2 linked regions of the Homo sapiens genome follow. The protein of the gene in region 1 purifies or fractionates together with the protein of each later gene. This does not show direct contact. Each region holds a gene or a part of one and is shown on either strand. Other genes may lie near its edges.

Region 1 (4,372 bases):
GCCCATGCTCCGATGTTGATGACATCGAAGGCACCCCTCCCGAGGAAATCTCAACTGCACAACCCCTACTACGCCCCAATTCAGCAGGAAGCAGTTAGAGCAGTTGTCAGCCAACCTCCCCAACAGCACTTGGGTTTTCCTGTTGAGAGGGGGTACTGAGAGACAGGACTAGCTGGATTTCCTAGGCCAACTAAGAATCCCTAAGCCTAGCTGGGAAGGTGACCACATCCACCTTTAAACACAGGGCTTGCAACTTAGCTCACACCCGACCAATCAGAGAGCTCACTAAAATGCTAATTAGGCAAAAACAGGAGGTAAAGAAATAGCCAATCATCTATCGCCTGAGAGCACAGCAGGAGGGACAATGATCGGGATATAAACCCAGGCATTCGAGCCAGCAATGGCTACCCTCTTTGGGTCCCCTCCCTTTGTATGGGAGCTCAGTTTTCACTCTATTAAATCTTGCAACTGCAAAAACAAACAAACAAAAAAAAAGACTTTCACCTTTTCACTTAAAGGAAGCCCTTTATGGCCTCTTTTTGGCATATCCAAATTGCCAGCATCTCTGCTCTTGCACTTTGAGGACATTACTGAGTCACATAAGAGGTTCTTGAATATAAGCACTGCAATACCATGACAGTCGATCTGATCACCTGCTGGGTGACTGGCAGGCGGGTGGTGTAGACAGCACGGGTACCCTGGACAAAGGGAGGATTCACGTCCTAGGTAGGATGGAGCAGGATGGTGTGAGATTTCATCACGATATTCCGAAGAGTACACAATTTAAAACTTAAGAGTTGTTTATTTCTGAAATTTTTCATTTAGTATTTTCGGTCTGCAGTTGGCTATGAGTAACTGAAACCATGAGTAACAGAAACCATGGATGGGGGAGGATGACTGGAGTCTGGAGTATCCTATCCTACATGGCCTGGGAATGTTTGTTCTCATGCTCTGCCTGGCAGTTAATTGTTCACAAGTGTCCCCATAAGTAACTGTCGAGAAGATTCTCACAGGAGACCACGTGGGTTGCCTGAAGAAGCCAGAGTGAAGGAGGGTTGAAATCAACGCCTTTAGAGTCTTAGGAATAAAAGTTAAAAAGCCCCAGAGAAATGTTGTCCTTTGTCCACAGCACCTGCACTAACCCCTCCCAGAAAGTGGGCATGCAGTTTCCCAGGCCAGGCGAGTGTTCGTTGCTCACCGAAGACCAGTGTTTACTAGCAGGATTGTCGCCAGAAGCAGCTGCATTCTCCCCGGATGCAGACCTGCCCGTTGGTAGGGACTCTGCTCACACGGAACATGGACGGTTACACCTGTGCCGTGGTGACGTCCACCAGCTTCTGGATCATCTCGGCGTGGGTGTTGTGGAAGGGCAGCCCATCCACCTCCATGCCCACGATGCCCGAGACGCCACTCCGGACTTTGTGCTGCACCAAGATGCCCAGCATTTTTTCTTCCTGGAAAAAAATAGGGCAGAAATAGAAGGAGTGGAGGGGGAGGAAAAAGAAATTTCTTTTATACACATTTATAAGTGAGAAGGATCCTTTGCCTTGACATACTTGCTTTTTAAAAAAGTAAAATTTTGGTTTAAAGTACTAATACCATTGGAAAAGTCATGAAAAGTAAGTGTCCTCCATCACAGCTCATTGGCCCCCAAATCTACTCCCCAGAAACAATCACGGGAATAGTTTGGGCTGCTTCTTTTGGTAGTTACTGTTATGTAACTAAATAATATGCTTTAATGGAAACATAGTTTCTTAGTTTGATTGTCCGTTTTTAGAGATGGGGTCTTGCTATGTTGCCCAGACTGGTATTGAACTCCTGGCCTCAAGTGATTCTTCTGTCTCAGTCTCCTGACTAGCTGGGACTATAGGTGCACATCACTGTGCCCGGCCAGCCTGCATTTCCTTAACCAACACTGAAGATTCACTCCTCCTGCAGGTGCAGTGCAGGCTATTTCCTGCCAATAAGTTCCTCCCAGCCCTGGATTATCTGCCAATAGTCTTTGTGCCAAAGGCCCCCATTTCTCCTGAGACCTCTTAGCCTAATGTGGGGCATGTGTCAAATCCTGCTGCTGTTGCCTTCTAGAAATGACCAGGGTGACTGTGGGAGTGGGAGCATCTAGGTGTAGCAGAGTCACAGAGAATACAAGCCCCCATCCTGAAGCCGCAGCCCGGGGCCTAGCAGGCAGAGTGGTTTGGGGATCAGAAAGGTCTGACTTGAGTCTTTCCTGGCAGGAATTTTAACTGTTCTGTGCCTTAGTGTGCTTATCTGTAAAATGGGGAGGGTGATGATAAAAGTACTCATCATGCCTCCTTTAGAGGGTTGTTCTGAGGATTACGTACAAGCAAAGCACTTAGCAGGGTCCTTGGCACACAACAGGCATTCACAAAATGAGGTTGATTTTATTGGCAGGGCTAGGTCTTCTGGCCTTTAGCCTAGAGCTTTCTCCCTTTGCTCTCCTGCTGGTTAAAAAAAAAAAAAGTGGTTTGATCCTCCTCCATCCCCCCTCCTTCCAAAAATAAAATCCCAAAGCACCACTTGCCCAAGCCACTAATGTGTCTGTCCCTAGTGAACAGCTCAGGTTCCCCTAAGGACAGTGAGCCTTAAGTGAAGGCATAAAGCAACTCAAACACATCCTTCCCTCTTCTTCTTCTTCCTCCTCCTCCTCTTCCTTCTCCCTGTCTTCTTCCTCCTCCACAACAAAGGCAGGAGGTGAGAGGAGGGGACCTAAGGAATCTAGAATAGGACATTAGGGCGGCTATAAGAAGGCTCTCTCCCTGCTCAGGCATTTGCTCATTCATCCCACCATTGATCAAAGGTTTATTGAACACCTGCTAAGTATGTGTCAGGCCCTGAACCAGGGATACAGTGGTGAATGTGACATGGTTCCTGCCCCCATGGGGTTCACAGTCTAGATGAGTAATCAGGTAGTCATAGTACAGGATGTCACAGCACAGAGCAGGGGCACCCAACCCAGCTTATTGGCATGGTTCAGGGAACATTTTCTGGAGGCAGGGTGTTATGGACTCAATATGTACCCTCAAATTTTGTATGTTGAACCTAATCCTCAATTGTTGGAATTTGAAAGTGGGGTCTTTGGGAGGTAATAAGATTGAGATGAGGTCATGAGTGAGGGTCAGGATGTGAAGTGCTCTTATAAGAAAAAGAGAAACCAGAGCTCTCGCTCTCTCCACCACATGCGGACTCAGCAAGAAGGCGGCCATCTGTAAGCCAGGAAGAGAGTCCCCACCAGTGAATCAAAACTACTGGCACCTTGATGTTGGACTTCCCAATCTCTAGAACTGTGAGAACTAAATTTCTGTTGTTCAAGCCACCTAGTCTATAGTTGTTTTTTAAAATAGCAGCTTGAGCTACGACAAGGGGCAACTAGGATCAGAGGTGATGAAAGAATAAAAATGAGCCAGCTGAGAGCCCTGGAGGGTCACTCACTAACTTTTTCTAAGTAATAGAGAAAGCATTGGCAAATGTTAACTGCAAACTGTCTCTTCACAGCTGGCCTGAGAGCCTGCATTTCTGTTCTGCCCTGGGGGCCAAGAAGGATGTTCCTCTGTAGGAGGGAGGCCCTAAATTGTTTCCACTTTCACATGTGTCCTTTGTCCAACAGCTCCTTCTCAGGAGCTACCCACTCAGAATGGCATTTCCCGCCCTTTGTTTGGGCTTCTTCCTCTCGCTTCTCTTCTCCACTGGTCATATCCTCTCTTTATGGGGGAATGTTTCTGGGACTCCTGGGGCCATTTCCTCACAGCACACTGTTTCCCTCACCATTCTCATCCTTCTGGGCCCCAGGAAGGGCTGTGGGGTCCTCAGGGTGCACGCAATCAGCCAACAGGTTTCGAGCTGACTGGCACCCAGCCTCCAAGAGACACAGGGACCAGCTGGGCCAACAGCTACTCCCTGCAAATTTCCAAGAATCACGGAATGACCATGCCATCTTCTAAGAGGCAGAGGTGGTAACAGTGGCAGAGAATTACCAGGGAGCAGCTGGAGGGCAGGGCGCCTGAAGGCCACTGCACCAGTCCAGGCTGAGACAACAGGGCAGGAGAGGAGGAATGGAGGACCCAAGTGAGGGAGAGTAGACAGGGCTTGGATGGGGACAGAGGCCCCAGGGTGGCTGAGTGTGTGGATGCTGAGTGTGTAGAGGCTGAGTGTATGGGTGCTTGCTATTAAGTCACACTGGGAGCACGGTGGGCAGGTATTTATGGGAGGTGATGATGCCGCTCAAAGTGGGGTGCCTTCTGGGAAGTTGGAACTGTTTTGTGTCTTAATCTTGGTGGTGGTTGCAAGGGTGTATACTTATGTAAAAATTCATCCAACTGTACACTTAAGGTGTACACACTTTATTGTATGTTAA
Region 2 (3,812 bases), on another chromosome or scaffold:
GTAGGGGTCACATCCACTGCAAAGGGCTACGTTCCATGAGAAACACAAAGATGGATCCCAAAGGGCACTGGTCCACAAAGGGCTGACAGGTTGCAGGGTCAGACAGCAGAGATGTCCGTTTTCAGGACACAAGACGGAAAACACCGACAGCCAAAAAAGGGGGCCGGGGAGGGTGGGGGAACGGCATTCATTCCCTGCTGGGGAGGGAGGGGAGGCAGCATTTGAGCTGAGTGGAGGACGGGAGGAAGGGCAACCCAGGCAGAAGGTCCAATCTGGGCAAAGGCCCAGATAGAGAAAGAGAGAGACCAGCGGGCAGAGGCCGGCTGGGAGGGTGCACGCAGAGAAGGGTGGGGGGAAATGCGTGAACAGCAGTCTAGGACACCTGAACTCAATGCATGAGAGGCCACCGAAGAGACGCTCATTACCAGTGCTGTGCTTTACAAAAATAACACTAGTTCACAATGGCAAGACCTTCCAGAACGATGCCAAACACACCCAGTGAGGGGGCAAATTCATAGGTACAGGTACAAGGGTCAAAGTTGGTATAAATTCCAAATTAAAATAAATATGGATAATATTTAAACTGAGCCTTAGGCTGGTTGAACGTGATGTTCCAGAACCCAAATGTTCTGTCATTGGGTCTGGGGCAGCTGCAGCCATTCTCACTCATGCCATGCATCAACTGACTCATCTGTAAAGCAGTCCCAAAGAGAGGCCAAAAAACCCCTCTTCAGATCTACAAAAACATGTATCTTTTAGCAGTGTCTGTGTTTAGATATACTCATCAATATGTGACAATAACAGTAAACATAGGTAGCATTATACGAGGACATACAAAATCACTATTGGGAGGCCTGTCTTCAATTTTGAATAAAATTCCTATTTGCCACAATGCAGATACTCCCAGATTCGATTTTTCTCAGGTCTTGAGTCCTGTTTCGTGATTGCAGTACTGCATTATTCTCTCCTGCAACTGACGGCAAAAACCACCATCCCTGCTTGGCAGGCCCCTTTGGAGGCTGAAGGCCAGTGGCAAGGGGCACTGTTGCCTCTACTGACCTGATTAACCATCTGGTGCTGCTGGACAGTTCTCTTCTCCTTAAATTCTTCTGATTCAATTTTAATTTCATACATCGCCCCACAACCTCCTAAAATAAACATGATTCAAAAGCATTTCAATTATTAAGTCATGGCAGCCATGGTCCCATATATCCTTGAAGTACTGTACAATCCAAAGGTCTGAATATTATCATTCAGCACAAAGGAAAGTTGCTAAGACCATTAGGAAAAGATCATGGCTTCCAATCTGACCACATGCTCCTCCTGACAGGCTGCCACAATCCAAAATGTGCTCTTCCTTTTGCGAGGCAGCTGCACCACCCAGGGTTACCACTTGTGGGCAGGAAAGATAAGGCACAAAGCATGGACAACCTAGGGAGTGTAGAGTGTTTCCTTTCACTAGGCCAATAAACGCCACGGAAGAGGATGAGAAGGACGGAATTTCAGCGTTCCAGCTTCCAAAGGACCAACAATCAGTGTTTTTGAAGTGCAAAAATACACTACAATTTGGTTTGAAAACTGTGTAATACTGTCCAAAGAAAGGAAAGAACCAGGGGAGCATGAGAGCCAGGGACACAGCAAACATGCTATGCATGGAGCTGCTCGGGGCTGTCTCTGGCACTGCTGGGTCCACAGCACAGCATCCAGGATTTCATCCTGGCTTTTGGGGGGAGAACTTTTTGGTGAAGCCCTCGAGGCAGAGCTTGGTGGGCCATCCACCCCCTGCCTGAGCTTTCCTCCACCTGGCTGGAGAGCTGGTGCTGATGACTGATGATAAACACACAGCTCTAGCATGAAATAACATGGGCAAGAATATGTCCCCTGCATGATTTACAGAGCCAGGCCATTGTGTGAGAGGTGCAACGTACTCAACAGGCTTTGCTCTGCTTCTTTTTTTTTTTGAGATGGAGTCTCGCTCTGTCGCCCAGGCTGGAGTGCAGTGGCACGATCTGGGCTCACTGCAAGCTCCGCCTCCCAGGTTCACACCATTCTCCTGCCTCAGCCTCCTGAGTAGCTGGGACTATAGGCACACACCATCATGCCCAGCTAATTTTTTTTTTGTATTTTTAGTAGAGACGGGGTTTCACCGTGTTAGCCAGGATGGTCTCGATCTCCTGACCTCGTGATCCACCCGCCTCGGCCTCCCAAAGTGCTGGGATTACAGGCGTGAGCCACCGCGCCTGGCCTGTTCTGTTTTTCTTATAATGTGCTCTAGGAGTCCAAGTTTTGGTTAAACCCAGGTTCTCAGCCTCAACTCCCCTTCTGCACTCTGTCCAGGACTGCGCAGAGCCACAGCTGAGTCAAGCTCTAACTCTGCCCTGGGCCTGGGGCAAGTTCAGGACCTGGTAACATCAAGGCCTCAGCATTGCCCCAAGACTCCTGCAGAGCCCTCACCTGATGTACCATTCCAGCAGATTTTTTTTTTCTTTTTGAGACAGAGTTTCGCTCTTGTCGCCCAGGCTGGAGTGCAGTGGTGCAATCTCAGCTCACTGCAACCTCTGCCTCCCAGGTTCAAGCGATTCTCCTGCCTCAGCCTCCTGAGTAGCTGGGATTACAGGTGCCTGCTACCATGCCTGGCTAATTTTTTTTTTTTTTTTGTATTTCTGGTTGAGATGGGGTTTCACCATGTTGGCCAGGCTGGTCTCGAACTCCTGACCTCAGGTGATCCACCTGCCTCAGCCTCCCAAAGTGCTGGGATTACAGACATGAGCCACCGCGCCTGGCCCCAGCAGATTTTTTTTTTTTTTTTTTGAGACACAGTCTCGCTCTGTCACCCAGGCTGGAGTGCAGTGGCATGATCTTGGCTCACTGCAGCCTCCGCCTCCCGGGTTCAAGCAAGTCTCCTGCCTCAGACTCTTGAGTAGCTGGGACTACAGGCGTGTGCCACCACGCCCAGTTAATTTTTGTATTTTTAGTAGAGACGGGGGGGTTTCACCATGTTGGCCAGGCTGGTCTTGAACTCCTGACCTCGTGATCCACCTGCCTCAGCCTCTCAAAGTGCTGGGATTACAGGCATGAGCCACTGCTCCAAAACCCCAGCAGATCTTTAGATTGATTTATTTCCTGTGGTTTCCAGAATAAAATCTACTTTCTAAACTTTCTCCTCAATCCTTGGAAATGTTATGTTCTCAGTAAAGTCAGTGAGCCCTCATGGCAATGCTGAGTGGCAAAGGCTGCCTCTGGGTATGGAGAGATTCAGACTGATGCCTATCCAGCGGCCCACGCCACGGGCCGTTCTGTGTGTACGTGTGTGTGTGTGTGTGGATAAAGGGCCTATCTTCCCCATCCTGTGGATGCAGAAGTTGCTTCTCCAGCCTGCTCCTAACACACTGCCAGCCTGAACTTCTAGGTGCCAGTGGCCACCTGAGAAGGACAGCGCTTGGCTGGGGCTGGTAACTGGGCTTAGGACAGAGTCTCCCCTGAGTCCCGGTTCTGGTTCCAGTTCCACTGTCTCTTCCCTATGAGGAGCTAGGCAATTCCTTTGGCCTCTCTGGGCTCATTTCCTCTTAGGGAAAGTAAAGCAGCTGAAGAAAATCTTTCTGGGGTCCACTCCAGCTCTGATATCCTAGGGTGTCAGAAGAATGGGGGAAAATTAGAGCAAAACCTATTCAAAGTCAAATGACAGACTGTGGACCTCAGCTCTAGGGTGACTGAGAGGGACCTTGTCTGAGCTGAGCCAGGCTGGCAACCTTGAGTCCTCCCAGCTGCGCCTTGTCCTCAGTTTCCCTCTGATATTTCTGAATCCTGACTGC

Evidence for each region.
Region 2: the proteins of DGLUCY (region 1) and BOLA3 purify together in Homo sapiens (affinity purification with mass spectrometry; one large-scale study listed by BioGRID and IntAct). This does not show direct contact.

Annotation. Positions count from the first base shown.
Region 1 is NC_000014.9:91,221,766-91,226,137, reverse strand, and holds the end of DGLUCY (D-glutamate cyclase, mitochondrial isoform b precursor), read right to left. Parts: intron 1,455-4,372; coding exon 1,305-1,454; 3' UTR 506-1,304; downstream 1-505. UniProt on the Homo sapiens protein: D-glutamate cyclase that converts D-glutamate to 5-oxo-D-proline.
Region 2 is NC_000002.12:74,141,213-74,145,024, forward strand, and holds part of BOLA3 (bolA-like protein 3), read right to left. Parts: intron 1,149-3,812; coding exon 1,060-1,148; intron 1-1,059. UniProt on the Homo sapiens protein: Acts as a mitochondrial iron-sulfur (Fe-S) cluster assembly factor that facilitates (Fe-S) cluster insertion into a subset of mitochondrial proteins. Probably acts together with NFU1.